Linked DNA regions of Homo sapiens. The protein of the gene in region 3 interacts with the protein of the main gene of each other region in a pairwise test. Each region holds a gene or a part of one and is shown on either strand. Other genes may lie near its edges.

What was found. The genes of interacting proteins can lie anywhere in the genome.
Region 1: the proteins of ABI3 (region 3) and SH3BP1 interact in binary tests that used the Homo sapiens proteins (3 or more experiments, as listed by UniProt).
Region 2: the proteins of ABI3 (region 3) and SUFU interact in binary tests that used the Homo sapiens proteins (3 or more experiments, as listed by UniProt).

What each region holds. Positions count from the first base shown.
Region 1 is NC_000022.11:37,634,926-37,642,690, forward strand, and holds the start of SH3BP1 (SH3 domain-binding protein 1), read left to right. Parts: upstream 1-4,743; 5' UTR 4,744-4,862; coding exon 4,863-4,921; intron 4,922-6,200; coding exon 6,201-6,243; intron 6,244-6,448; coding exon 6,449-6,553; intron 6,554-6,906; exon of another isoform or gene 6,907-7,613; coding exon 7,614-7,690; exon of another isoform or gene 7,691-7,765. UniProt on the Homo sapiens protein: GTPase activating protein (GAP) which specifically converts GTP-bound Rho-type GTPases including RAC1 and CDC42 in their inactive GDP-bound form.
Region 2 is NC_000010.11:102,590,971-102,597,993, forward strand, and holds part of SUFU (suppressor of fused homolog), read left to right. Parts: intron 1-1,611; coding exon 1,612-1,754; intron 1,755-2,665; coding exon 2,666-2,751; intron 2,752-3,022; coding exon 3,023-3,095; intron 3,096-6,166; coding exon of another isoform or gene 6,167-6,169; coding exon 6,170-6,323; intron 6,324-7,023. UniProt on the Homo sapiens protein: Negative regulator in the hedgehog/smoothened signaling pathway. Down-regulates GLI1-mediated transactivation of target genes. Down-regulates GLI2-mediated transactivation of target genes. Part of a corepressor complex that acts on DNA-bound GLI1.
Region 3 is NC_000017.11:49,206,138-49,213,706, forward strand, and holds the start of ABI3 (ABI gene family member 3), read left to right. Parts: upstream 1-4,569; 5' UTR 4,570-4,587; coding exon 4,588-4,704; intron 4,705-7,569. Other genes in the region: GNGT2 (guanine nucleotide-binding protein G(I)/G(S)/G(O) subunit gamma-T2), read right to left, coding at 620-745, 1,202-1,285. UniProt on the Homo sapiens protein: May inhibit tumor metastasis. In vitro, reduces cell motility.

The sequences.
Region 1 (7,765 bases), on a different chromosome or scaffold from region 3:
TGTGTGATTTTGAGGAAGATGCTTTCCTTTCTGGAAAAGGGGAGAGGGACTCAATGAGCTATAAGGTCCCTCTGAGGAGTCCTTGGACAAAGGAGCCAGGCTGTCAGCTTTGGAGTGACCCAGGATATTCCGGGGACGGGAAGGTGGGGTCCCTTCAGCCTTTGGACCTTGTCCCTTGCCTTGTCCTTAACCCACCCATCCTGTCAGTCATGCCAGTGTTTCCTGAGCAGCCCCTGGGCCAGCCCCTGTCCTAAGAGTTCACAAGCTGGCAAGGACTTGGGAGCCAGTGTGGCACCCTGAGAGCAAAGACATAAGGTACCACAGAAGCCCTGCATCTGTCTGAGAGTCTGGGGTGGGTTCTAACCAGAGGAAAGGACCCTGGGCCTCCACTCCCTGGAGGAGTCCTTCCCCAAATACCGTGTTGCTGCACAGAGGTCCGGGCCACTGCGCTCTGCAGTCTCAGGGGCTGGGATGCAGTGCACTGGGGAGGCGTGTGCTCTGTCTCTTGAAGGGTGACCCCCAGTGCCATGCCAAGACCAGTGGGACTTCCCAGATCTCGAAGCCCCACTTCCATTTCTGTTGATTTGGCCGAGGCACCAGTTAATTTTGGTTTTCAGCAACCGCATCACACTGTTCGTCTGTTTATGGCAGCCAGGAGAAGTGGCAAGGGCCTGGGAGCCTGCTCCTGCCTAGTCGGTTTTTTGTTGTTGTTGTTTTTACGGAGTTTCGCTCTTGTTGCCCAGGCTGGAGTGCAATGGCACGATCTCGGCTCACCGCAACCTCTGCCTCCCGAGTTCAAGCGATTCTCCTGCCTCGGCCTCCCGAGTAGCTGGGATTACAGGCCTGCGCCACCACATCCTGCTAAGTTTGTATTTTTAGTAGAGACGGGGTTTCTCCATGTTGGTCAGGCTAACTCCCACCTAAGGTGATCCACCTGCCTTGGCCTCCCAAAGTGCTGAGATTACAGGCGTGAGCCACCACACCCGGCCCCCAGTCAGTTTTTTGGTTTTTTTGTTTGTTTGTTTGAGGTAAGGTCTCTCACCCAGGCTGGAGGGCAGTGTTGTAAACACAGCTCCCTGCAGCCCTGACCTCCTCGGCGCAGGCAATCCTACCCTCTTAGCCTCCTGAGCAGCTGGGACCACAGGCGCGTGCCACCATGCCCGGCTAATATTTTTATTTTTTGTATAGAGTTTCGCCAGGTTGCCCAGGCTGGTCTGGAACTCCTGAGCTCAAGCGATCCACCTGCCTCAGCCTCCCAAAGTGTTGTGGTGAGCTACTGTGCCTGGTCTGCCTGGTCTCTCGACATACCCCCTCCCCCAGTCTCTCTGGGCCTTGCAACCAGGGCACCAGCCCAGCAAGGCAGGCAAGAGGAGCCCCCGGACCTGATGCCTATAGCCTCCCATCTTAAGCCTCTGAAATGCCCTGTGAAATGGGAAGTGAGGCTCAGAGAAGTCACACATTATGGGCTGAGTCTGGGCCAGCAGTCTTGAGGTGTCTACCAGGATGGCACATTGCCCCATACCTCCCAAGTCCTCCCCCCAGCCTCTGTCGGGCTGTCCTCTGGGGCTGGGCTCAGGGTACACACTCCTCCAGGGCTATCAGGATTAAAATGGAGTTCTCAGCCTTAGGGCCACCCCAGGATTTCCTGGAAAGTCCTTTGGGCTTGGGGAGGGAGGTGAGGGAGTTTTTAGAGCCCCAGAGATCTCACTATGCCCCTAGCTGCTCTGGGTGGAAGTCCACACAGAGGGCAGCACCGAGGGATACTACAAACAGGCAATTTGTCAAAGTGTCTAAAATGGGATGTTTCTGCTCCTGCAGCCCCTGCTTCCGACCCCCGTTACCACCACCACTCAGCTGCTGACCTCCCTGCCCACATCCTGCTCAAGCCTTACTAGCACATGCTACCCAGACTGTCCCAGGCTTTCACAGACAAATCTGCACAGAGGCTGCCAGGCCCTCAAAGCAACCACAGGGGTTAAGGCAGAGCCAAGGGCCAGCATTTCTGGAGCTCCCAGGCAAGGCTGTCTGGGTCTGGCACAGCAGGAGAGCCCACGTGGGCTTAGGAGACTGTCAGATCTGTTTCCTAACTTGGCCTCTACCACTTTTCCAGCTGGGGACCTTAGGCCAGGGGCCTTGGGCTATTCACCTGTAAAATGGGGACAGTGATACCACCCTCACTGGAGGATATGCTATAGCACAACAAAAAGTCCCATTGTCCTAAGGCAGCTAGACACACACAGGGGTCGTTGGGGCAGGAATGGGGGTAAGGGGTCTTTCCATTCCTGACTTGGCAAGCTGAATAATGATGGTAACAAGAAACAACGCAAGGCACTTTATAAGCATCTTGCATCTATTAATTCACCTAACGCTTCTGTGAGGTAGGTACTATTATTTCCAATTTACTGAGGAGGATGCTGAGGTTCAGAGACGTGAAGTGTCCCACTTAAGGTTACCCAGCTAATGACAGCCACAGCCTGGCCAGCTAGCCTCCTCCACACCCTTAAGCTCTCTCTGTTCCTGCTGCCTGAGCCACTGTGACAGGCACACTGCCGGGTCCCAGAGGCTTTAGCAGGAGCCAGCTAAGACCAGCCTGGTAGAGAATGACCCAAGCCAACAGGCCCCTGGATTGGGGAAGGGCCCCACGAGGGGTTGGCTGGGGAGCTCTGAGGTACCCCTTCTGTGTCTGCAGTTTAGAAAGGCCATGATCCCAACACCCACTGATCAAAACTTCTGAGTCCGTAAGTCTCTGATTACAATTCCTTCTAAGGAACAGCCTATAACCCTAACCCAACCTTTGGGGAGTCCATCCTTCTATGATTCAACATCCAGGTGTGACAAGGGAGGGCCTAAAATCTACCCATCACCCAGCTAGGAGGCACAGCAGCCCCACCCGAATCCGACTCAAAGGCCCAGGGTGTCTCTCCTGCCCAGGACCCTTAGGTCTGGCTGGAGGGGAGTCTGGAGACCAGGGCAGGAGCGCGGGGCAAGAGCTCAGTTAGACTGATAATATGGCTCAGGTAGTTTCCACCACAGCTGCGGCTACAACCCACGTGTACTGACCCCTCACCAGGCCGGAGCTGGGGCTCAGGACTGGGCAAATCTAGGAGAGACAGAGGTGTAAGCCAAACCTTGCCTTCAAGGACTTTCAGACCAGCTACAGAACCAGACAAGCCCAGGCCCGGTGTGGTCTGGGCTGGAGGCTTGGCTGGAACAGAGCAGGGGCACCACATAGTCCAGAGACTTCCCGAGGGACAGGAAGGATGGCACCTGAGGTTCCCTTGCCATGCCACCCATAGTCACTGGCCAGCAGCCTTCCTGTTGGGAAAAGGGAGATGGGGGAGGGAACCTTGCCTGACATCTCATCCTGGCCTGAGCTTTGATCTTGGAGCCTCCCAACTTCCCACCAGGATTCCACACTCAGGTGGGCTCCCATCTGGGAGGCTCTGGCCATAGCAGGCAGCTGTTGGGTTCCCTTCTCAGCTCCTCCCACCCCCAATGAGTCCTGCCTCATTAGGGAGGAGAGAAGCAGCCAGTGAGTGTGCCAGGCCCTGGGCTAGGTGCTGGGAGTATGGAGATGTGTGGGGCCAAGGTCCTGCCTCTGAGAGGCGCCCAGTCTGCACCGGCACACAGTCTGCACCGGCACACAGTAGTGGCTCAAATAGTCTCAAACTAAACTGAAACTAACAAAGCAAAGTGCAGAGGGTGTGGCAGGACTCTGGGGCACACCCTCCCCTCTTCCCCACGCCTGCGGCTCCTGATGCCACAGGGGTGCAGGGTAAGGAGAGCCTACTGTTTCCTAAAGGCGCTCACATCTTGTAAAACCAGCAGTTATGGAGCACTTACTGTATGCCTAACTCTGTGTTGAGTGGAGGGCCAAAGAGGAGAACTACTGAGTTTGGGGGCAGTCAGAGCAGCACCTACATCATTGCCCTACAAGAAGGAAGGGGGACTGAGGCTGTTTGCCAGGAGGAATGAGAGGAGACGGGCTTCACAGATGGAGCAAACTGCCAGGAGATGTGGAGAACAGGGTGTCGCGAACCGCTCTGGGAGGGTTCCTGGTGGCTGAGGGGTGGCACGCACCTCCCTTAAAGGGAGCTGGCAGGGGTGTCTTGTCCACTCTGCAGAATGGGCAGGCCCAGGACAGCTGGCCCATCAGACCATTAGAAACAGCGAGTCCGGAGTTCCAGGGGCTTGTCCACGGCCACACAGCAGCCCGTGGCCCCAGGAAGCCAAAGCTCCCAGCCAGTCATCCAGTGGTGGGGGGTTTAGTTCCAGGGGGCCAGAGGTCCTCTGCGGAAGAGAGTGCAAGGCAGTATCCGCGGCAGGCCCAGAGAGGCCAGGACAGGTCAGAAAGGCCTACCCCTCTTTCGCTTGGTACCCTTTCCTCTTTGCGAGGGATGCAAAGGTTATTTATACTTCGGGTCTGCAGGCTGCGGGTGGGGCAGGCACCCCGCCTGGGGCGGGTTGCGGGCGCAGGGGCAGGAATGGGCTTACCTGCTTCCCGCCACCGGGGCTGGGCGGGGCGCTGCGGGGAGGAGGAGCCGGGCACAACCTGTGGACGGCCGCGGCCGGCGGACACACAGCAGCGGGGGCCCGGCCGGGGGTCGCCCGGGGGCCCGGAAGCCGGGGAAGAGCGAGGAAACCAACTTGGAGAGAGGAGTGACCTGGGGGCCGGGGGCGGAGTCGTGAGCGGGGGAGGAGAGAGCCGGCCGCCAGCAAGAGCCGCGCGGCGGCCCAGGAAGCGAGAGCGCCGCCCACCCATCCGGGGCAAGAGCCGCGCCGCAGGAGAGGCAGGCTGGACCGGGGGCTCCCCGGGCCCGCGACCCCCGCCGTGACCCCGCAGCCCCCAGCTCGCCCCCAAGATGATGAAGAGGCAGCTGCACCGCATGCGGCAGCTGGCCCAGACGGGCAGCTTGGGACGGTGAGTGTCACCCGCTTCCAGCCCCACTCTTACCCCGGCAGGACTTGAGGGGTCGTAAAAGGGTCGGGGGAGACGGGGGTGGGGGAGGCTGGGGACAGCTGGGCAGCCACCCTCTGAGCGGCCAGACTCCTGCTCTCTCTTCCTCCTCTCTGAACGCCGCCCCCGTCTCTCGGGCAGAGCTGGAGGAGCAAGGGTGGCCTTTGGGGGAAGGGATGCCCCCCCTTACCGGATTGGAGGGGGCTTCAGGCGGGAGAATGCTCTCTGCCCTAGGACGCTGGGACTTCTCTGCCTCCACGAGTCTCTAAGTGGATGGTCCTCCTGACCTCACTTGTCCCCTCTGGACAATGGGACAGTTCACCACCTCTGCTTGCTGGGCCGGGGAGGGAGGAGGGTCGATTAGGGCCACAGACCTGGGGCGAGGGGAGGAGATGGGTCCTGGCCTGGTGGGAGGAGGGGCCTGCCCCTGGCCTGCAGCGTCCCTCCCCCTCCCCCTCCCCCCAGCCCAGGGGCCTCCTGCTTCTGTCTCGTTTCTGCTTTTCCTGGACTCAGGTGGAAATATCCCCAGGTCTCCCAGCTCCCACCCCCAGCCTCTGAGCCGGTGGCACGGAGGCCGGAAGTTTGGGGAGCCTCTCAGAGCCTGTCTTCTCTGCTCCTCTTCCCCCAGCCTCAGGAGTTCCCCATTCTCTGGGTCCAGGGAGGGGACTGGGTGTCCAGAGACCTGGTTCTAGTCTCACACTGGCACAGATGCCTACATAGCCTGGACAGTCAGACCACCTTGCAGTGGGCCTTGGCATCCCCCATGTGTCCCCAGGTGGGGGCCAAGGGCCTGTGCACCCCTGCCCACAGCTGTAGTCCAGAGTGCTGTGTGACTGTGCCTAGGAGTCTGAGCTCCTGCACTTCCCGTTCTTGGGGCCAGCTAATACTCCTCATCCCGGGGTGGGCTGAGGATTTGGGAGTGGGCAGAAAAGAGGCTTCTGTGTCCCAAAGCTGGGCCCCGGGTGGGTCTCTCAGCCTCCCCTTTAGTTTCATCTGTCCGCCCTCTCTCAGGACACAGCCCTGGGTGGAGGAGGAAAAACCCATGTATCCTATTCCCACCCCCATGGAATGTGCTCCGACTGGGATGAAGCAACTGGGCCACCCAGGGCAGGCCTCAGCTGGGAGGGACAGTGGAAGCACTGGGGTCCAGGTGCCCTGCTGCGGGGAAGGGAAGTAGGGGGCGTTCTAACCCAGGCAGGCTCAGCAGAAGCACTCTCCCCCCCCCCCCCACCACTCCCCGCAGCACCCCGGAGACCGCTGAGTTCCTGGGTGAGGACCTGCTGCAGGTACGTGCCTGGGCCGGGCAGGTGGGAAGGCAGGCCTGTGCAGGCTGTCTCGGAGCAGAGGGCCGGGGCGGGGACGCCAGGTAGGGGCCTGGGTTGAGTCATTCCTCAAGCTGTTGGCCATGGGGTCCCCAGGGGACAGGAGAAAGTTTCCTGCTCAGGGGGAGACAGCCTCTCTTGATCCTTAACCTCCATACCTCCTTCCCAGGTAGAACAGCGGCTGGAGCCGGCCAAGCGGGCAGCCCACAACATCCACAAGCGGCTGCAGGCCTGTCTGCAGGGCCAGAGCGGGGCAGACATGGACAAGCGGGTGGTGAGTGGGGGGTCCCGGGAAGGAGGGGCCTGAGCAGGAGACTTCCATCCAATGGGGAAGCAAGGTCGGGGCTGGGGTTTCCTTGCCAGTCTGAGTGTCTGGCACCAAGGGCATGGAGACTGCTCTGTTCCAAGGCCCCTCTGGCACTGCACTCAAGAGGCCCTATACCTTCCCCATCACCTTTACCCCACTTCCCTGTGCACCAGTTCCCATAAGCCAAGGCCAGGCTTCTGACAGCACCTGAACTTCTCTGTCCAATCAGTGCGCAAGAGCAGGCTGTCAATGGGGCGGCCTCAGAGGGTTTCCTGAAGGAGGTAGCAATTGAGCTGGCTTTTGAGGGATACACGTTTATTAATCAAGAGGCAGCGTTTATTGGCTGATAACCGCCAGCTTGTTACTAACATATGAGTGCACTGTCTCATGGAACACTGGCACAACCCTAGGGGCAGGCATTGCTTTACACATGAGGAACTGGAGGCTCAGAGATAAAGTCACTTGTCCAAGGTCACATAGCTAGTAAGTGGCAGAACTGAGGTTTGAACCCTGGTCTCTGATCCCAGAGCAGGCATTCCCCGTAACTCCAGATGGGGTGGGAGTGTGGGGCCATGTTTTGGAATCAGTTGACAATTCAGTGTGGCCAAGGCAAGGAAATTGGGAGCCATAGAGCGTTTGAACTCAGCGGTGGCTAGGTCAGCCATATATACCCTGGGACAGGGGAAAGAGCTCCCGCTCCCATTCTCCCTCCACCTGTGTGACCTGGGGCAAGCTCCCTGCCCTCCCTGCATCTTAGTTTCCCAGTCTGCAGTAGGACTTGGTCATTCCTTCCTGCCCAGTCAAGTGGCTTCTGGGAAGAGGAAAGGGCACGCCAGATGGAGAGGGGCTCCATCCATGCTCTCAGGGAAATGTCACCCCCACCACGCCTTGTCATCTTGTTTCCACTCTCATCTGGGACTGTGGCCCTCCTGGGTTCCCTCCTCCCCTGCCCCAAGGGGCTGGCCTGGTGCTCAGGCAGGGTGGAGGGAGGCACGGACACTCATCGCCGGCCCCACCCTCCCTGCAGAAGAAGCTTCCCCTCATGGCTCTGTCCACCACGATGGCTGAGAGCTTCAAGGAGCTGGACCCTGATTCCAGCATGGGGTGAGCACAGACGGGGCCCAGCCCTCACCTGGGGATACCAAGACGTGATCTCAGCTGGGAGGGGGTCCAGGTGGT
Region 2 (7,023 bases), on a different chromosome or scaffold from region 3:
TCTTCCTTCTCCTGCCTGAATGAACACTATTGAGGTTAGGACCAATAACTGAAGCCGTATCTTGGATGGAAAAGGTGTGTCTGTGTGTGTATGTGTGTGTTCTGCCTTACCTTAAATATTGATAAAAAGTGAAGAAAGATACCTCAACTGTTGAGATTCCGAGATCGTGAATGACAGACCATAGTGAACTCTGGAACAGCCATTTAAAGAATGAGATAGCTCTCCATATGCTGAGAAGCAGTGATCTCTGCTGGGTGCTGTGGCTCATACTTGTAATCCCCGCACTTTGGGAGGCCGAGGAGGGCGGATCACGAGGTCAGGAGATCGAGGCCATCCTGGCTAACACCGTGAAATCCCACCTCTACTAAAAATACAAAAAATTAGCCAGGTGTGGTGGCACATGCCAGTAATCCCAGCTACTCAGGAGGCTGAGGCAGGAGAATCGCTTGAACCCAGGAGGCGGAGGTTGCAGTGAGCAGAGATCGCGCCACTGCACTGCAGCCTGGCAACAGAGCGAGACTCCATCTCAAAAAAAAAAAAAAAAGGTGATCTCGTGCTCACTTCAGCAGCACATATACTAAAATTGGAACGATACAGAGAAGATTAGTATGGCCCCTGCGCAAGGATGACATGCAAATTCGTGAAGTGTTCCATATTAAAAAAAAAAAGGTGCTGTCTAAGATATATAATTAAGTGAAATCTGCAGAATAGTGTGCTTCCATTTGTGTAAGGACAAAACATGGAAGGGAGCCTGTGGATGCATAGGCTGGACATATAGAGCACCTTGGCACCCACGATGAGAGTCAGAGCTGGTGAGAGACTTAGTACCCTGTGGGGTTGTTTTCCCTTGTGGTTATGTGGCCTTAAACAAAACTCTCTCTAAAGTAACGTACCTGCTTGAAGTGCAGTGGTGAGCCTGTGTGTGAGGAGGCTATGCCCTCATGGCAACAGCTACCCTTGGCAGAATCTGAACATCTCAGAGACATGGCCTGAGGATCCTCATGAGTTGTCTCTGCCACGGTGTGGGAGGCACTATTTAGACCTCCATTTACTTGAAGCCTAGTGTTCCTCAGGAATTCCTACATCTGCCTGTGGGAAAATGGTGATAGATTTCAAAGGCTCTCCAAGGTTCGATGTTTCCTTCTGAGTGCCATTTCAGCAACATAGGAATTTCGGTCTGTTTCTCCAAGGTGAAGGGCTTTCATTGCCCTGTTGCCTCTCTGTGGACTTCTGGCCAGGTGGCCCTACAGAAAAGCACCTTATTCTTTCTTGGCAGATCCAGTCATGGCTCCTGCCTCCCACCATGAGTCGGGATATTGGGGAAGCGAAGCAGATGCCAGAAGTCTTTCTGGTTTCCCAGGCCGAAGGAGCTTTCACACTAATAGCCTGTCCTTTTCAAGTCTGACAGAACTGGCAAGCAGGAACAATTTAGGTTTTTGGAAATATCCACAAACTCTTTGCTTCCATCCGGAGTGAATGCTTCTCTTCCTTCACAGGGGCTACCCTAAGAGGCTGGGAAGCCTCCCAGCCTGGGCTAGTGAGATCCCAGCCCAGATTCCAGGCCTGGATCTGGGGCCTTGAACAATGAGGATCCTTGTATCTCTCCCACAGAGAACACCTTCTGCAGTGGGGACCATGTGTCCTGGCACAGCCCTTTGGATAACAGTGAGTCAAGAATTCAGCACATGCTGCTGACAGAGGACCCACAGATGCAGCCCGTGCAGACACCCTTTGGGGTAGTTACCTTCCTCCAGGTGAGGCACAGGTTGGACGCTGGCTCAAGCCTTCCTGTGGGAAGGGTCCTGGGAGGACAAGGAGGCTTGAGGAGGGGGAGTGAAGGGAGTGGGAGGTTTCCTTTGGCCTCGTCCTGATTTCTGTTTCCTCTGATGGTTTGTCAGGTAGATTCAGATGGTCTGATTTAACCTGCTGAGATGGGAGAGGGGAGAAAGGGAAGGGGGCATTTGGTTGGGAGAGAATGGCTGTAGCTGAGAGGGAGTAATGGGGTGGCGGGTATTCTTTGAACAGTGAAGACCCAGTCTCAGGAACAGGACTTTCCAGCGGGAAGCCAGCTCTGGGTCGTCCTTGCTCTTTGCCAGAAGCTGTGGGAACCTGCCCAGCTTTGACCAGTGCTTGTTTTTGGTCACGAAGTCTATGTGAAGGTTCCACTGATTCCCTTGATATTTACACAAAGGCCTATCCCCTAATAAGGAAGGGAGGAGTTTCTCTGCAGGCTGCTATGACCTATTGGTGGTGGTTCCAAGCCTGATAGGTCTCAAAGTCTCTTGTTTACATTCCCCATGATACCAGACTGGGTAGGAATGGCTCCCTGAACCTCCCCTACTTCCAGAGACATGGCCTGAGGACACATCTTGAGTTGCTCAGGCCTTGGTTTTCTCCTTTGTAGCTAAGAGCTAGACTTGGTGTCATCCAGACACAGCAAGGGCAAGGGTCAGGCCTCAGGGCCCACATGTGGACCCAGCCATTTCCCAGCCAGGCAGCCACTCCCTCCTAAGGGAATCATCCAATCTTGGCTGCACCAGCTCCTGAGCACAGATCCTGCCTGTGGTCTCCCAACTGGAGGTGACTCAGAGAGCCTGGGTAGCTGACCTTCTTGGGGTGGGGGGTGGCCATTAACACACAATGGGCTTTCTATCCTGGGCCTCAGATCGTTGGTGTCTGCACTGAAGAGCTACACTCAGCCCAGCAGTGGAACGGGCAGGGCATCCTGGAGCTGCTGCGGACAGTGCCTATGTGAGTACCCATGCAAGGTGGGAGCGCGGCTCCCTGGGCCTGGGGGTGGGAGTCCCTCCACTACCCTCCATGTGGGGCTCCCTCTTGCGTTGTTATTTCAGACCCTGGTTTTTCACATCAGGGCTTCCTGACGACTCACTCCCTGACAGTCCCTGACCACGAACTATTCCCCTGTGTCCTAGGCCTGGGGCAGCAAACAGGGCAGGCTGTAGGCCCAGCCCATCAGCCCCAGACCCTCAGTTACCATTGTATCCCCTTTCCTTGTCCACAGTGCTGGCGGCCCCTGGCTGATAACTGACATGCGGAGGGGAGAGACCATATTTGAGATCGATCCACACCTGCAAGTATGTCTTGAGTGAGGAAAACCTTTCTAGCACCCTGTGCCTAGGCCTCTTCCAAATAACACTGGCTTTCATCCTGGGAAAACAGAGGACCTTTATGTGTGAGTGAGTAGAAATATGGCATCACTTGGAACTTGTCCCCTGAATTCTGCAGAGCACGTAGGGAGCAGAGGTTTCAGCCCAGGAAAGCTAGTCCTCAGACATATGTATTTTGGCATTTTAAAAGGATATTTTTATTGTATGTAAATTATATATTGGCTTAAAAAATTAGATTGCCAGCAATAAAAGATAAGTGTAGTGGATATTGCTTGCTTGCCCAGTATTCATTCTCCTGCCTCCCAGACTTTCTTTTAGGGAGCCACCACGGCCACCACCGCCCTGTACCAGACAGTAGTGTAGGTGATACTGACTCCATGGCTCAGCTGCAGGAGTGAGGGCTGATTGGTCTAATGGTCCTATCCCCATTTTCGCCACATTTTCTATCTTGGACAGTCAGATGCAGAGCTCCTAGCCTGGAAAGATTGGCACCTTAGACACACAGGCTGGCAGCTGCCCACTCCCTGTGGCCCACCTGGACATTGTTTCAGTGTCATCTTTGCTGTTTTAGAAGCATTCCTTTGTCATGCAGGTAAAGTTTGAAAGCCACAAGAACGTAACTGCCTTTTCTTTTTTTGAGACGGAGTTTCGCTCTTCTCACCCAGCCTGGAGTGCAGTGGCACAATCTCGGCTTACTGCAGCCTCCGCCTCCCAGGGTCAAGCAGTTCTCCTGCCTCAGCCTCCCGAGTAGCTGAGATTACAGGCGCCCACCACCACGCCCAGATAATTTTTTGTATTTTTAGTAGAGACAGGGTTTCACCATGTTGGCCAGGCTGGTCTCGAACTCTTGACCTCAGATGATCCGCCCGCCTCGGCCTCCCAAAGTGCTGGGATTACAGGTTTGAGCTAGTGCGCCTGGCCCATAACTGCCTTTCTTATGGGCTTCTCTTGAAGCAGGAGCCACAGACAGCTAATAATGTTACCTGCCTGGTGTCTGGCTCCTTCTACTCCCCTGACCAAATGCAGGTCATTGCCATCTCTAAACCTGCCATGCTTCTGTAAAATATCTGGTAGGCCACAGGCAGTTGCCGGGAGTTCCATGTGTTAGAGCAAGAGAAAGGTGGCAGATGGACATGTAGCCAGCAGCCCCTGAGTTCTTCACTGTAGACTTGTGAGTTCTTGGGCATAAATCCTCTTCATTCACAGATGATGCTCCTCTGTTTTCCTAGTGCCTTTAACACTGAACATTTCAAACTGCTGCCAGGATCCTCTGTTCTCTCTGCTTTAAACTTGGTTTCCTTGTATCTTCTGCATATGCAAGAACCAGGAACCAGGAAGGCTATCTTTCCCTAAGCCCTTGTTCTGTAGCCACACTGGGATCCAGCATGGGGCACTGTGGGCCGTTGTTTGGCCCCTGTCATAAGTGCCAAGTACTAAGAAAGAACCTGGTCCTTTGCACTAGTAGGGTAAACAGCTGTCCTTCCATGCCAAGGGCTGTTCTTCCTAGTCTGCAGGATCCCCTGAGAGCAGCCCACAGGACCCGGAGCACCTAGTGGTCTTTGAAAGCAAGCCAGGGTCCCACAGGAACAAAGGACAGCTTTCTTTCCTGGTGGCTCTGTGCACCAAGTGTGAACTCCTCTGTATTCACTGTGCCTTTCTGGGGCCTGCTTGCTATCAGTCTCTTTAGAGCTGGCATATATTCCTGTGATTCAAGCTCTACACTAACCAGCTGTGTGCCCAAATAAGTCCCTCGCCTTCTGGGTCTTAACTTTTTCTTTTTACTTATAAAGTAAATAGCCCAGACAAGTTGAGCCAAGAATTGTCTGTCTGCAACTCTTTACCTAAGTGAGGGACCCCAGGGCAGCCAGTGCAGAGGAAAAAGCTCAGACTATCCCCTGAGCACACCAGGGTATACATGCTCCCTGCCCAGAGTACACAGAGCGCTTCCCTGCTTAGCCTCTTCCTGCTCGGAACCCACAGCTTTGCCCAGGCCAGCATTAGCACTTGAAAGGAGGAGATGACTGATGGGAAGGAGGCGTCTGGGGCAGAGCCACTTGCTGACTGGTCCCAGGAAATAAGGACAGTACCTGTACTTCTCCCACATGGGGCTTCTGGGCTGATCAGCAGGCCAGTGTGGTACCTGTGGAGCCGGGAAGCACAGATTATTGTTGAGATGCTCAGTCACAAGCTTGATTTGGCCCACATGGACATAGAGCCTTCCAGATGACTTTTAATTCAAGGTCCAGCATCAATGAACTGTGTTTTACCAGAAAATCCAGGGATGTTTTGAGTACAACTCTTCCTTGAAGCCATTTGGAGAGTGTTTGTACTCAGCAGTACCAAGGCCTGCACAAAGGCAGGGTCTCGATGGGGAGAGAAGGGTGTCTGCAGATAGTCACTGCACTCTAGGCCCCCATTTCAGTCTAAGAAATGGGAAGGAATCTCCATCCAGAGTCCTTTGCTAAACAAGGGAACCAATGCATCTAGGGAAGTCCAGCCTTTGTTCTCCAGTGGCTCTTCCCTGTGTGACCACACCCTCTAGCTGTTAGAAGGGGAAACTGCAGGTGTGGCCTGTTGCCTGTGGCAGGCTTCCACCCTGTTTTCTATAGCAGTGACTGGGAGGTTCTGCCTGAAGATCGGGAGGAGAGGAAGGATCACACCTCTCCTCAGAGAAGTAGGCTCTCTCATGGCCACATCAGCCCCACCAGCCAGCGTGGCGGGGACAGGTTTGGGGCTCTGAAACAGGTAGAGGCCATTGTGCTGGAAGGCTGATGGTAGAAGAGATGTTTCCCTTGGGATTTGCATTCCTCCTGGCTTCCCCTAATCCCTGGTTCCCCTGGAGGAGTCCAGGAGCTGGCAGAGACCATCATGCATTGGTAACCAGGGCAGAACAAGGTCAGAGATCCTGCTCTCCAGCATTTGTCCCATGCTCAGCACCACAAGGGCTCAGTAAATACTGTAAGAGCAGTGGCTGAAAGGGTGGTCACCTTGGGTCACCAGTTCTCTGAAAGAACTCTGGCTCTTTGGTTCTTTTCAAGCAGGAGAGAGTTGACAAAGGCATCGAGACAGATGGCTCCAACCTGAGTGGTGTCAGTGCCAAGTGTGCCTGGGATGACCTGAGCCGGCCCCCCGAGGATGACGAGGACAGCCGGAGCATCTGCATCGGCACACAGCCCCGGCGACTCTCTGGCAAAGGTGGGAGCCATCACTCAGCATTCCACCAGCCTTCCTCCTTCCTTTTCCCCAGGGCCTGGTTTCCAGTCTCTCTAGGATGGGTCTCTAACAAAAACAACCCATTCAATAGTTTATTTCCTGGCATGATTTAAACAGCAAGTGAAGTCTTCCAGCAGGGCGGAATTAAGGGAGCTTTATTGGCCCATTCCTAGTTGTGTTTCCTGTGTGTATTTCAAATGCATCACCAGCAGGCACCGTTGTGTTTTAGATATGCCCTTTGCAATCTGAGGTCATGGAGGTGAGTGGAAGCCTCAGAACAGTTACAGGAAAAGTCCATAGTCCACCCAAGTGCAAGAGAAAAGTGTCGGCCACCCACGGAATTGACACAGGGCCCAGCTCTGGCCTGAAGGCCATGCCAGATCCAAGGATCACTCTGGCCTCGGGCCCTCCCAGGCCTTCAACAAATGAGGCCTGAGTGTGAGGCTGGCTTGCAAATTGCCCACCTCCTGTCATATAGATACAGGGTTAGGGGCTGTGGGCAGGGCCTCTGGACCCACCGTGTTCCGGATGGGGTCTTTGGGAAGGAGGATGTGGCTGTCCTGTTGGAATCTCCCTGTGCTGATCTTGGCTACAGAAACAGTTGTGGTTTTTAGTAGAGGGCGTCCCCAGCTAACTGCAAAGGAGAAGCAGCCACTTACATATACATGTGTTGACAGCTTCT
Region 3 (7,569 bases):
TCCATGAAAATAGGAGCCATGTTCGTCTTGCACACTCTTCCATCCATAGTGCCCAGCACTAACAGACTACTTGACAATATTAAAGAAATCATGAAATCATAACTTCACAAACTCTTGTTGTCATCAGGCCATCTGGGGTGATCTAAATGACTAGGAACAGGACCATAGGGTAGGACATGATATGGAGGGACAGGACCACCCAACCCTGGCCCCCAGCCCAAACTACTCTGGCGTGGAAATGCTTTATTCCTAGGATGAGAGTAGAGGGAAAAGACGGAGGGGTTCCCAGGTGGTGTAAGTGCTTCCTAAGGACTGCCCTCTGGGGTCTTGGGGTATTGCAGGCTTCTCACACCCCACCACCCATGGGGCCAACCGCTCGGCCAGCCACACTGTCCTCAGAGTGTTCCCAGCAAGGTCAGCAGAGACCCAGCAGGTGGAGGAAATAATGGGAGAAAAGAGTTGAAGGTGGGAGTGGGGAATGGGTTCACAATGCATTTGTTCAGGGATCTTTACTCATTCTGTGATGAAGAGAAGGTGACAGTTCACTGGCTCCCTGGGGGTCTAGGAGACTTGGGCTTGGCTGAAGAGGGACAGACACTCAGGGCAGGGCTCCATGCCATCAGCTTATCAGACAGCCACCTTTCTCCTTGAAGGGATTCTTGTCCTCAGGGATGCCTTTGAGAAAAGGATCGTTTCCTGCTTGGGCCTCCACGTACTCCTTGATTTCCTTTCCCGCTTTGGAAATCTGCGAGAACACAAAAAATGTTTTAGGTCCTTGTTACTGTCTCTGGGTCCATGATTTGGTCAGTGCCAGAAAAACAGGCTTCTGGGCAGGGCAGAGACAGGGGCCAAAGAGGAGAAAGACACAGAGGACAGACAGGTGTTCGGGGGTGTGAGTTCCTTGATCTGACCCACAACACTGACCCTGACCTTCATGGGCTGCTTGGCCAGAGCCAGCCCAGACACAGGGCTGGACACGCTGAGCTCTCCAAGGCCCTGAAGCTCTCTCCTGTGCTCAGGGAGGCTGGCACCTTCACAGGGTCAACCCCAGCCTTTCTCTGCATCCTACCCCATCCCAGAGGTACCTCCTGCTGCTTCTGCAGCCCTGGAACAGTCCCACCACCCTTTCTGGTCACTTCCTCCTTCCCGGGGCTCATCAGGAACAGGAAGGGAAGAGCAGGGACGGGGCGAGGAGGCTCACCGGAATTCTTGTGTTTTTCACTTCTTTCTTCAGCTGCTCCACCTCCATCTTCAACAGGTCCTTCTCGCTGAGATCCTGGGCCATCCTGCCCTAGACAGACCTGATCCTGGAAAGGATTCAGCAGCCAGGATCATAAATCTCATCAGCTCTTCCAGCTCCCTCCACACCTCGACTTCTAGCATCTTCCCTGCCATATCCCTCAGTTCAGGCCCCTCATCATTCAACAGATATTCACTCCATCCTTGCATGCCCTGCTTCTTCAAGAGTCTGGGCTCAGGAGGGGAGGAAGCTCCCAGTCTGATGGGGGAGGCACCATTTTTGCCTTTGGATTGTCTGTCTATGGAGGAAATTTGGATTGTCTGTCTATAGAGGCATCTGTCTGTCTGTCTACAGAGGAAACAGAGAAGAAAGAAAAAGGAGTTTCTTTCAGAGAGGAAGATCTGGGAAGCAACGTTATTGTTTCATATAGTGACTCAGAGTTTTCCTCTTTCTCTCCAGGTCCAGCAAGGGAGAGTATACAATAATGGTCAAGAGAAGGGGGTCTTGGCTGGGCGCGGTGGCTCACCCCTATAATCCCAGCACTTTGGGAGGCCAAAGTGGGAGGATCGCTTGAGCCCAGGAGTTCAAGATCAGCCTGGCCAACATGGCGAAACCTCGTCTCTACAAAAGATAGAAAAATTAGCCGGGGTGATGGTGAGTGCCTATAATCCCAGCTACTCGGGAGGCTGAGATATGAGAATTGCTTGAACCTGGGAGGCGAAGGTTGCAGTGAGCTGAGATCATGCCACTGCACTCCAGCCTGGGTAACAGAGAACAACTGTTTCAAAAAATAAAAAAAGATCCCAGGCACTGTGGCTCATGCCTGTAATCCCAGCACTTTGGGAGGCTGAGACAGGCAGATCACCTGAGGTTGAGGGTTCGAGACTAGCCTCGCCAACATGGTGAAACCCCATCTCTACTAAAAATACAAAAATTAGGCAGGCGTGGTGGCGGGCACCTGTAATCCCAGCTACTCAGCGGGCTGAGGCAGGAGAATCACTTGAACCCAGAAGACGGAGGTTGCAGTGAGCCGAGATCACACCACTGCACTCCAGCTTAGGCGACAAGAGTGAGACTCCATCTCAAAAAAAAAAAAAAGAGAGAGAGAGAGACAAGGGGGTCTGGAGCTTACCAGACTCCAACTCTGATCTGCTGCTTCCTTACTGCTTTCTCAGTGTGGCCTTAGGGAAGTCACTCAACCTCTTTGAGTATTAGTTTCCCCAGCTGCAAATGGGTATTAAAAAAACCTACCACATGCAATTATTGTGGGTACTAAGAAAATAATGTCTATAAAATATTATAATATACTACCTGGCACATAATGAACACTTAATACACTTATTATTATCACTAATAATGCTATTGTTATTATTATCACTGCAGGGTTATCAGGAAGGCCTTCCTGGTGCCTAGCCCCAGTGATACTAAGAGTAGATCCCAGCCCAGTGCAACCTCAGCCCCTCTCACCTGCCACAGAAGAGCACACTCTCCAAGTCACTTGTCCTGGACTCAGGTAAGATAGTGTTTGAGCCTCCTAGTTCTTCATCAGCTGAAAATCTTCAGATAAAGCAGATGGCCTGGAAACCAAAATCTCTGATGCCTAAGCTGATCATAGGCTCAAAGTTCTAAGCCCATCACCCGCTTGAGCCTTCAAGCCCTCACTACAGCAGAGCAGAGAGACAGACATTCTCCCCACAAAAACAAACGCGAAAACAGAAGCCACCTTTTCACCACCTTGCCTTGCGTTAGCCTCACACTTTTGGTGACCTCACTAGCTTAGAGCCCGCAGCGCTTCTATTTCTCCACCTCCACCCTGCAGCCCCACTTACCCCGCTTCGCCTGCTTTCTCCTCCTTCCCTTCCCACCTCTGAGCATGCTCTGAGGCTGTCCTTCCTCCTGAGGCAAGTCCTAGACCGGCCCCTAACCTCCTTAACCAAGATGCTTTGTGTTGCCCATTGGATCCCCACAGTTTCACCTTACGAAGTTCTCCTAGCTCACTCTTCATCCACTCATTCAATAAAAATGTCCTTGCTCACCAAGCTGTGCCACTTAGTACTTGGGGCGTGGCCACCTCTAATGCCTCTGTTCAAGCTTCTTTGCTGCCATGCCTCCCTCTGAGCCCTGAATGTGGGTTCCTGAGCACAGAACCCACATCCTGGTTTTTTTCTTGCTGTCCCCCCAGGACCACCCAAGGGCTATGCCATTTAACAGACATTGAGCTCCTGCTCTGGTTGACACCCATCCAATGACAAGGGACCCGCTGGAGGAGCAAAAGTTAAGGGACCAATATGGTCAATGGGAGGTCCTCTTATTCTCCTGTCTCTAGGATGACAGGCTTGGTGGTGGGAGGGGCAGAGAGGAGGCCCGCCGTCCATCCTAACTTCCGTGCTCCAGGACCCAGTCCAACTCTCAGCTGGGAGCTCTAAGAATTTGAAATCAGAACAGGATCCTGGAGGTTGTCTGGTACAACTGTCCTGTTAATGCGTGAACCACAGCCCATACCTCCTAGGCAGGCTCAGTGCTCTGTCCACCGCTGCTTCCTAAAACCGCAAGTTGATCTGAAATTTGAACCTGGTGCTTCTCAAATCCAAGTCCTTCCTGTTGTCTAATCTGAGTCCCTCACATTACGCTTGGTCAATTTCATCTTGTCCTGCCTTCATCTGCACAGAGCGTGTAGGGCAGATCTTCATCACACACAACCCTTCGCAGGCTTGCTAACACCCCTCTGGCAACCTCTCTGGTCATGTCTTCCCGGTGTCCAACCCTGACCCCTCTTGCTGCCGCATCGGCTGTTTTCTATTTTTGCTGTGCTGCTGCCCCACAGTCCTCTGGTATGACGGATCTCCATATCCTATCCACCCTCCACTCCCCTGTCCCTTGGTGACTCATCCCTGAGCTTCCCAAGGAAGCCCCCACCCTCTGCCCTTTCCTCCCGCCTTCCATGAGTGGAAAATCCACCTCCGCCCCCTATAGCAGGCCAGCCCCCTTCCTCCCCAGTCTCCGACCCCATCCCCCAGCCGACCAGTTTCCTCTCCAGGACCAGGGAGCAATCACAGCTGCCCCGACCTTGGCTTCCTCTGCTGGGTGGGATTGGGGGCTGGGCCCCCAAATGGGCCCCTGGCTTCCCCCTTCCTCTGGGCAGGGGACAGAGAGACACAGGCTCGGGGAGCAGGACTGACTTCCTCTTGTCCCGGAATGAGCATGCCTGCCCTTTGCAAGCAGGTTTGGGTCTCACGCAGAGGAAACCAAAAGCAATAAGAGGGAGGGAAGGCAGAGCAACCAATCAAGGGCAGGGTGAGACTCAAAACGAGCGGGCTCCCTGGGGAGCCAGACAGAGGCTGGGGGTGATGGCGGAGCTACAGCAGCTGCAGGAGTTTGAGATCCCCACTGGCCGGGAGGCTCTGAGGGGCAACCACAGTGCCCTGCTGCGGGTCGCTGACTACTGCGAGGACAACTATGTGCAGGTAGGTAGAGCGGGCGGAAGCCTGACACCCCAGCCCCCGGAGGGGGGACCCTGAGCCCTGCCCCAAGTGGGGCCCTGGGACCCATCCTGACAGTGCTTGTCCTGGGCCTTGGCTGAGAAATCCTCCCATTCCAGGCTTCGGCTTCATCCCAGACCCCAATACTTAACCCTGACCCCATACTACCCAAGCCCCCACTGTGCCCCTTCTGTCTCTCAGAGCCTCAGAGATGCCTGGGACAGACAGTGCGATTCCATCCTGTTCTCAGGTGTCACCTCAGGTTCATCCTTCTGAGTTCCCACGGGTCAATCCAGAGACCCAAAGCCTCCGTCCTCACACAGATGCTGGCGATCATTCTATTTCCAGGCCGGCTCTGGGTGAGGCTTCAGAAGAACTTCCCAAACAGCACAGTGAACCTGAGATGGACAAGGGAAAGGGGCTCTTTCCCTGAGTTTGGGAAAGGGAGAGTGGGGATAAGGCAGAGTAGGCTGGGCTAAAGAGAGGGGATCTCATGCAGAGGCAGGGGGATGGCCCACATAACTGCTGGGAGCAGGCTTCTAGCAACAGATAGGGAGGTGGCATTGTAGAACAGGTTTTAAATTGTGTGGTTGTCCTGGGGCTGAGAACATAGATTCCTGGATTCAGGGAGGAGAGGCAAGGCAACTGAGCCATGATGGAAATCACTTCTGTTATTTCATTAATCTGTACAACTACCTTGTGAGACATGTATTATAATTCCTATTTTACAGATGTGGAAACAGTAGCTCAGGGAGGTGAGGTGACTTGTCTAAGGCCACACAGCTCCAAACAGCAGAGCCAGGCATTCCTTTTTTTTCGCTCTTGTTGTCCAGGCTGGAGTGCAATGGCTCGATCTTGGCTCACTACAACCTCCGCCTTCCGGGTTCAAGAAATTCTCCTGCCTCAGCCTCCTGAGTAGCTGGAATTACAGGCATGCACCACCATGCCCGACTAATTTTATATTTTTAGTAGAGACAGGGTTTCGCCATGTTGGTAAGGCTGGTCTCGAACTCCTGACACCTCAGGTGATCCACCCGCCTTGGCCTCCCAAAGTTCTGGGATTACAGGAGTGAGCCACTGTGCCCAGCCAGCCTTTTTTTTTTTTTGACGGGGTCTCCTCTGTCACCCAGGCTGGAGTGCTGTGGCATGATCATAGCTCACGTAGCTTCACTGAAGCCTTGAACTCCTAGGTTCAAGCAATCCTCCCACCTCAGCCTTCTGAGTAGCTGGGGCTACAGGTGCATGCCACCATGCCTGGCTAATTTTTTAAATTTTTTTGTAAAGACAGGGTCTCCATATGTAGCCCAGGCTGGTCTTGAACTCCTGGCCTCAAGTGATCTGCCCACCTTGGCCTCCCAAAGTGCTGGGATTACAGGCATAAGCCACCACATTTGGGCTTCCCTGAATCCTGATGCCAAGCTCTTTCCTCTCCATCTTTCTGCCTCCCTACACGCTATGTGACTTTACGACAGTTTATTAGCACTCTCTGTCCCCGGTTTCCTCTGCTCCCTGAAGAGCTGCAGACTAACCTTGTTACCCCTTGGGCAAAACTTTATTTTTCTAACCTGTACTAACCAAACTATGAGAACAGGCACAGGGACCTTGTAGCATAGTAAGAATGTTGAAAAAAGAAGTAAATGAGTAACAAGTGCTCATGGGAAATGGCAGATTAAAGACAGTCAGTAATGACAGCAGTTAAAATGCTCTGGACCCTTCTTTTGGGCCAGGCATGTTACCAGCATGGCCTCCCTTCATCCTCATCTGAAGTCCGGTGAGGCGAGTCCCATGCCCACTTCACAGTGAGGAAGCTGAGGTTTGGAAAGGTTAAGTCACTTTCCCAGAAGTCTCCTAGCTAGTGTCAGAGCCTGAATTCAAACGCAGAAATCTGATTCCAGAGCCCACTCCCTATGCCACTAACTGAAAATGCTACTCTGGGTATCATTTCGGTCTGTGTAGATGTTGAGTGACCACCTGCAGATGAGACAGAATGAGGCTTGCAAACCAGCTCATTCTCCTAGCATGGAAAGGCATGTTTCCTCTATGGACAAGGATCCAAGCAGTCCTTTCCATTCCTTCCATAACTTCTGCACACCTCAAAGAGCTTCCACAGGGCTCTCATTTGCACACACAGTGTGCACACACAATTTGGGGTCGCAAAGACCTAAGTCAAATTTCCAGTTCTGCCACCTACCAACTACAGGAACTGTGGCAAGTTTCTCCTCTGATTCTCATGCCTGCCTTCAGTGGTGGCTCCATGGATTCAATATAAAAATGTATCAAAGCATTCAGCCTAGTGCCAGCCCCTTCAGAAGAGCAGGATAAATGGCAGCTCTTACAATGACCATCACTACCATTCATTGGAAGGATGGATAATAAGAATCAGTTCTAGGGAGGAGAAGCTGTCCTTGCAAAAATATGCAGGGCATGAGAAGCCCTGACCCAAGTTGGAATCCTTGGACTCCTGCTTCCTTCGTGCAGAGTACTAACTACTAGAACACACAACTTGTTACCTTTCCTGGCCTTTCTGAGGATCTTTATCTAGGCAAATGCCTAGGAAGGTTCTGGATCTCAGAACTTCTGTTACCTAAGGCCTGATTCCCCTACCCTCCAACCCCACCTGCAGCCCCTCTCTCCCCACACCACCCAGATGCTAGGAAACCCATGGGGAATTAGGGAAGGCAGACCAGGGTCACCTGCAGAGTTCTCAGCCAGGGTTGACTGAGTTTACAGACACGGTAATTTGCATGATGAACAAGCACTCAGCCGCAGAGATGGATCTCAGACACCTGTCCCTGCGGACCTAACTTTGGGCTAAGAGCAAAGCCAGGGGTCGGTAGGTGTTCAGGCTGC